2 linked regions of the Homo sapiens genome follow. The protein of the gene in region 2 interacts with the protein of the main gene of each other region in a pairwise test. Each region holds a gene or a part of one and is shown on either strand. Other genes may lie near its edges.

Region 1 (3,819 bases), on a different chromosome or scaffold from region 2:
CATATGAAAAAAAAGCTCAACATCACTATCATTAGAGAAATGCAAATCAAAACCACAATGAAATATCATCTCACACCAGTCAGAATGGCTATTATTAAAAAGTAAAAAAATAACAGGTGCTGTCAAGGTTGTGGAGAAAAAGAAATGTTTATACACTGGTGATGAGAGTATAAATTAGTTCAACCATTGTAGAAAGCAGTGTAGTGATTCCTAAAAGACCTGAAAACAGAACTACCATTTGACCTAGGAATCTCATTATTGGGTATATACCCAAAGGAATATAAATCATTCTGCCATAAAGACATACCCGCAAGTATGTTCATCGCAGCACTATTCATAATAGCAAAGACATGGAATCAACCTGAATGCCCATCAATGGTAAACTGGAAAAAGAAAATGTGATACATATACACATACATATACATATACATGAAGGTGCCAGATTTTTTGCATTTTTGTGTTTTTTGTTGGTGATTTTGCTGTTTAAAGGGTCCCAGTGCCTAGTGATGAAGTGCTATTTAGTGTTCCTAAGCACAAGAAGGCTGTAACACACCTCATGGAGAAAATGCATGTCTTAGATAAGCTTTGTTCAGACGTGAGTTATAGTGCTGTTGGGTGTGAGTTTAATGTTAATGAATCAACCGTATATATTAAATAAGGTGTCTTTAAACAGAAACATACATGAATCAAACTTATGTATTGATCAGTTGACAAAAATGTGGCCAGAGATTAGTGGGAACCTAACCCTGTATTTCCTCTAAGACTAGTGGTTCAGTATTCACTAATTCAGTGTTTGTGGTGACTTTATAGTCCTAATTACTGTCAATAATGAGAACCGACTATAAATAGATTAGGTCAAACGCTCAGTGATTAACTTGCAAATGTTCAAATTGCCCATAAAAACACAACTGTAAAAATAATTGTTATGAAAACACAACTGTAAAAATAATTGTTAATACATTTATGTTTAGATAACATTTTATCATTTCTCACTGTTGGTACAATTGTGAAACTGCCTATGATATATAAGACCTCAGACACCTAAAAAGCAAAGAGATAAAAATATGTTGGAACGGGAGAATATCTCAAAGATGGTCTAGCACCTCTACTTTTGAAGCTATTTTTCTCTATTGCTTTGGAATGGCACTGATGCCATGGCTCCTTTCTTTACTTCCTTCAGGCCTCTATTCATATGTCATCTTATCACTGAGGCATTCTCTGATCCGCCTCTATAAAGAGCCCCTCAACTTCCATTCCCTTTACTCAGCTTTATTTTCCTCCATTGCTGTTATCATCATCTGACATATAACCAATCTATTTATTTGCTATTGCTTATCTCCTCCAACAAGATTGGAACCTCTATAGGGGCAAGTACCTATAACATGCAAGGAAAGGAGAAATGGTGCACTATTAGCTTGTCATAGTCATCTGAAAAATATCAAGTACCTTCCTGAAAACATCTGGCACCTAGAACAGTGCATGGAACAAAGCAGGCATGCAAATAAATATCTGTTAAACAAACTACTAAATGAAAACAATAATGGATTCATAGGAGCTCAGTGCATGGTAAAAATTAGTCACATATGGCACTAGGTATCCTGGAATAGGGACATAAAATACTTCAGAAACTATATCTTTGCTGCTAGAAATATTTTTTTAACTAAGACAAATTTGGAATTGACTTCCTAATTCCTACACTTTGTAGTAAAGAAAGGCCACCTATATCCTCTATGCATGTAACTTTAATAAAAGTTTCCTTTGTATTAAAAAATCCAAACTTACGAAATAGAGGACTTTTTACATATAGAAGAGGTTTTTTCATTTAAAAATGGTTTCATTTCAGAAATTCTTTAGATGGTAAGCTTTCCTAGAATATAGCAAGTATCATTTACCAAAAATATATGAGCTACACAAAAAATTTTAGGCTCATATCTGCTAATAGAAGTAGTGCTATTTTTGTAAACTCACACTTAAGATAAAACGTTTAATCCCTCTTCCATACTTACATCCCAGCAGGGATGCTATTCCCCTACTCCCTGTTTGAACTGCCATTTTAACCTGGTTTCTTACCAAATTATTCAGCTATGATGAGAGTTTGATTTTGAGTGAATAAGTATTAATATCATTCTGAAAAAATTATGTTACTATTAGTGTTGGCACATATTAGCACATACACACATGCAAATACCTAGCCATTCATAATAATTCATGCAGGACAGATTACCAATGTCCTCCCCTTACCCTAATAAATGAAATGTATCCTTCTATAAATTAGAATGATGCCTCAGACCCCACAACTTTCAAAAATATATGCTATACCTGTGTGAATTGGTCACAGTCAACAACGCGGAAAGTTTTGCCATAAATTGTGATGTTTATTCCTCGATTTAGGTCTTTCCAATGGTAATGGTCACCCCGGTCATTCTTGGCTAGCCGCTGGCGTTTTATTAACTTGCCTTGAAGGATTCCAGAATTTTCTACAACAGGCTCTATGACAGACATGCTGTCATCTTCTAGATAATAGTAAATGTTCACCTGACGGATCCTATACTGTTCCTCAGTTGACATAGGAACATCTTCTTGGAAATAGGCATCAAATTTCAGTACCTATAACATACAAGGAAAGGAGAAATGGTGTACTATTAGCTTGTCATAGTCATCTGAAAAATATCAAGTACCTTCCTGAAAACAGAACCACACAGGGAGATTTTAACACTCATCACTTCTATCCTGTAAATCTTGATACTCTAAAACTACAGATACTGCAAACTATAGTCCATGGGACAAATCTAACCTGCCACCTGTTTTTTTTATGACCTGCAAGCTAAGAGTGGGTTTTACATATTTAAATGGTTTAAAAAATTTTAAAAAATGTTTCATAACACATGGAAATTATAAAAATTTAAATTTTCAATCCACAAATAATTATGTAAATAATTTACGCTTTTTTGTTAACAGCTGCTCTCCCATTACAAGGGAAGAGTTGAATAGTTGTGACAGAGATACACAGACTAAATTGTGTCCCCCTCATCCCCAAAATTCATATGTTGAACCCCTAACCCTCAATGTGACTATATTTGGAGACAGGATCCTTAGGAGGTAATTAAGGTTAAACCAGATCTTAAGGATAGAGGTATGCCACCTTTAAGTCTAATCCCATAGAACTGGTTGCCTTAGAAGAGAAGAAGAGAAAGAGAGTTACTTCCCTCCCCTAACTCCCACATGTACACACCAAGGTAAGGCCACATGAAGACATAGCAAGAAGACCGCTGTATGCAAGCCAGGAAGAGAGCCCTCACCAGAATTCAAACCAGCTGGCACCTTGATCTTGGACCTCCAACCTCCAGAACTGTGAGAAAATAAATTCTATTATTTAAACCACTCAATCTGTGGTATTTTGTTGTGGCAGACTACGCAGGCTAAAACCACTGCAATGGCCAAAATATACGCTAACTGCCCTTTACAGAAAAAGTTTGCTGACATCTGCTTTAAATACTCACAATGTGTATAAACTATTTATTGCATATGTTCCTTGGTGAGAATACATCTTAAAGGACTTAACTCTACTAGCTTCACCTCCATGTCAAAAGTCCCTCCCAGAACTTCTGGGAAGAGTAAAAAATCTTGGATAAGATTGCGATTTTTGGTTTCAAACTGAAAATGAAGGGTTAATTGCACTTCTTTAGAAGTGTAGTCCTTTGTAAATGTATATTAATTACGTTCATTATTATAAACTTTATATGAATGACTTTCACATCATCAATCCACTACAGAATCTTTGAAGGGTGTGTACATACCCTCATCATCAATCCGCTATAC
Region 2 (3,919 bases):
GAAGCCCCGTGCTGGAGGAGTGTGCTCTCCAAAGCCAGTCTCGTGGCATTTCTAAGGCCATCTCCCGCAATGCTTCCATACAGCCAGTATAGGGAAAGGGTGAGTGGCAAGATTACAGAGACTTTCCTAAAGCCATCAGCAAGATAGGAATCCCTCGAATAATAAATCAAGAATTGCTTTTTCCCAGCCACCCCTAAGTAGACTGTAGTAGTCAAGACTTGGCAATTGTTGGATAAAGATGGAGATTACTACTGAACCAGTTCCTTCCTGTTTCTTCCTAACTAGACACTCAGAGTTAGCCACTCAGTGACACTGTGATATGGACTAGCCATTTGAATATTCTATGGCTGAGATTCCTTCCTCTGTAAAACGGGTCCAACATCACCTACCTGTGAGGGTCAGAGAAGCTAATGTATGCAGAACCCTGAGTAGAAGCCTGGGGCAGAGTGAGCTGTGGTGACAGTTCATACATCTAACCAGGGGTTCCGGGCTCCATCCTCCCCCAGGGAGCGAGGTGGGAGGATCTGCGGCCTGAGGACAATTGAGTGGGGAAGGAGGTGAGCTGGTTTCATCTAGGGTACCATGTTTTTTAAAGAAGGCTATTTTCCAATCCAAATAGTCTGTGGGCATCAGGCTTCACTGGTGGTGACAAAAGAGAGAGAAAGGAAAGAAGGGACACCCAGTGCCGCCTGCCATTGGGTACTGAGAACCACACTTTAAAACAAAAAACAAAAAAAACTATATAAAGGCAAGATGACACTTCAGAAGACCCCACATTTAAACTTTGTCCTTGGGACCCAAACAGTATAGAGTAGTAAGACAATGACCACCAGTGAGACAGGGACCCCAGGCATTTGGCAGTGTACATGGTTTCTTTTGTCCAGGGCAGGATTACAAACAGGAGTGTGAGGATGAAATCATGCAGCAAAAAACACTGTCAGGGTCAAGGCAGACGTGATGTCTTAGCACTGACGTCCCATCACAGAATTGTGGAACCATTTCTGCAAAGCTGAAGGAGAACTAGTCCCATGCAACTTTTCCCAACTCACAGACATGTCTCCTGAGGACCAGAAAGGTTGCTGGCCTGCAGAGGCACACAGCTGGTGTGCCTGCAGAGGCCCACAGCGGAGAACAATCATTAGCTGTGCTCCGTTTCTCCCTTCCATTAAGGAGTGCTGGGGTGAGACGCAAATTTTAAGCTTCTACCCATAGGCCAGGTAAACAAAGGGCGGCCTCCCGCCCGCCCCGTTCCTGCCTCGGCCATCCCTTGCAGCACAGCTGAGGGCTTGAAGGAGGATCCATGACTCACACTTTTCTTGCCGCGGAGAATTAACTCCAAGATAACATTACCCATGTGGGAAAAAAAAGCAAGCCATCAAGGAAGAAAGTTCACTTCGCGCCCCTCTCCACCGAGCCTCCTTACCTTCCTCATTTAAAATCCACGGCAGAGAGGCCAACACGGAGTCAAAGCCGCAAGTGCTCTCTTCAAAGGCACAGGACCCAGCGGGCAGGTCGAGGGCACCGGCGAGCTGCAGGGCTGCGGGCACAAAGCGAGTTTCAGTTCGAGCTCCACCCAGGAGCCTTTGCACCAACTCGGGGAGCCCCAGGGGGACTACCTGGTGAAAGTGGGGGAAAGACGAGCGGGAGGGGGCGGGAGAGGGATGCAGTACCTGTCCCCCAGCATCCCCGGGCGCCTCCACTGAGCGACCCCACGCCCACCCCCACCCCCACCCCAGGCTTGGCCAGGGGAGGGAGTTAGCGGCTGCGGAGGATCAGGAGGCGCCCTCGGATGGCCCAGCCCAGCACGGTGAGCCGGACCCCCGGGGGCAGCAGGAGCGGGGGCGAGTCGTCAGAGCGCCCCCGGGGTTGTCCCGGGGTCCAGGCCTTACCTTGCAACGCCAGGAGGACGCCCCTTAACAGCATGGTCGCGTTTCAGGGAGGATGACTAGGAAGGGGTGCAAGTTGCCAGCCCGCTGGGACTGGCTGCTCCTAGTGAAAGGGATCGTGGGAGGCGGGGGCGCCGGGGACCCAAGGAGGGAGAAGTCGAGAGGCAAAGCTTGCGCTCTGAGCTGCCCAACTTTGCAGAGCGGCTCCCGGAGCCGAGCGGTATGCTGGAAGGTGCTCGAATGGAGAGCGCCAGCGCCCCGGCGCTGAGCAGCAGCCTCAGGTCAGACCGCGGCCCAGCTGGTCCTGGGCGACGATGGGGCTGGACAGGGAGGAGACAACTGCACACTTTGAAAGGCCAGCCACGACTGGCTGGGAGAGGAGAGGTCGGCCCGCAGTGCCTTCGCTCAGGATTTTAAAGCTTGGGACCAGAGCCCTTGCAGACACTTGGAAGGGGCAGGCCTTCCAGGAGTCCCTCCGCTGGGTTGGGACCCGAGGCTCCCGCCCCGCCCAGCCGCGGTGGGAACTCGCTTATTTCTGGGGACAGCTTCCCTGCATCTGGCATGTCAGTCCCGCAGGGCTGGCCCTAATTTTAACTTCTTCTCCCCAGAATGAAAGAGGGTGGAATTCTCCAAGGACAGCCTGGAGGAAAATTTGGAAACGGTTGGGTGGAATAAGCTTTATATCTAAGGAGTTTCAGCGTTTACGGTCCAGCAATGCTAACCCTGGAATACCACCCCCACTTTTTTTAGCCGGTGGAATGTCTGGCATGCCTGGTGCTCAGCATTCCCTCCGTCCGGTGAAATGGGGGCATTCCTTCTCTCCAAAGAGCCATGATAGATTGATTAATGGGAGGCTTTACACTGGGAGGGGGTTGTTGGGGAGGGAGTTACTTCTGAGGAAGCTGTTTGCTTTGGGCACTAAGTGGGTCTCCAACAATATTCTTTTCTTGTAAAGAGTTCTTCTTCCTCCCCTCCTCTTCCTCCTCCTCCTCCTCCTTTCTCCCATTTATAATTTTGTGCAGGCAATTTTGTGAGGAGGGCAGTGGTTTTAAAACCTGAGGGTGCATCAGAATCTGCTGAAGGGCCTCACCCTCCGTTTCCGATCCAGTAGCTCTGGAGTGGGCCTGAGAGGCTGCACGTCCCTAATAAGTTTCCAGAGGCTGCTGCTGCCGCAGCGGGTTTGGAACAATACTTTGAGGACCACTGGCCTAACAAACTCCAGTTGAGCCATCAGTTCAACCTGCTCCCATGCCTTCACCTGGCTTCCAGACCGCTGGGTTTCCTGGTCTTTCATTGGCCGCCGCTTCTCGGCCTCTTTGCGTTACCTCTGTAACCCCTTAACATGAGAGTGCCTCCAAGTTCTTCCCTGTCACTCCTGTTTCTTTCTCTATCCAGCCCCTCAATGCTGTCCTCAAGTCTCATAGTTTTAGATACCAATGATAGCCTGATAACTCCCACATTTATATTTCTAACCCAGACTACTCACTAACGCCAGACTCTTCGATCTCATTGCCACCTCAACATTTCCAATCGGATGCTTCAGAGCTATTTCATACTTAACAGGTCCCAACATGAAGGCTGCATATTTCTTGCCAAACCTGCCCGTCCCCTGTGTCTTCCTCATCTCAGTAAAAGAACTATTTTCCTCCAGTTGTTCAGGAGAGAAAACTTGGAGGCATCTTCAGCTCATCCGTTCCTGTCAGACATTGCCAATTTCTATCAGCTCAGGATTCAAAACACAGCAGATGCTGACCATGCTCTGTGCCCATGGTGGTGATGCCTTGGTTGGTCCAAGCTGCCCTTGCCATCAACCTGGGATACCGCAGTGGCCTCCTGACCACGGTCTCCCTTCATTTTCTGCCCTGCCCACCCTACTCTATTCTGAACACACTAGTCAGGGTTATCCTTTTAATACAGAAATTGGGCCATGTCACTCCTTAGCTCAAGACCCAACAAGTTCCCAAGTCATTTAGTAAAGTCCAAAGTCTTCACGATGACCAACCAGGCCCTATAGGACCTGCTCCACCCTTTTC

The links.
Region 1: the proteins of MAMDC2 (region 2) and EFHC1 interact in binary tests that used the Homo sapiens proteins (3 or more experiments, as listed by UniProt).

The regions. Positions count from the first base shown.
Region 1 is NC_000006.12:52,437,092-52,440,910, reverse strand, and holds part of EFHC1 (EF-hand domain-containing protein 1), read right to left. Parts: intron 2,608-3,819; coding exon 2,320-2,607; intron 1-2,319. UniProt on the Homo sapiens protein: Microtubule inner protein (MIP) part of the dynein-decorated doublet microtubules (DMTs) in cilia axoneme, which is required for motile cilia beating.
Region 2 is NC_000009.12:70,042,202-70,046,120, reverse strand, and holds the start of MAMDC2 (MAM domain-containing protein 2 isoform 1 precursor), read right to left. Parts: upstream 2,274-3,919; 5' UTR 1,924-2,273; coding exon 1,890-1,923; intron 1,538-1,889; coding exon 1,424-1,537; intron 1-1,423.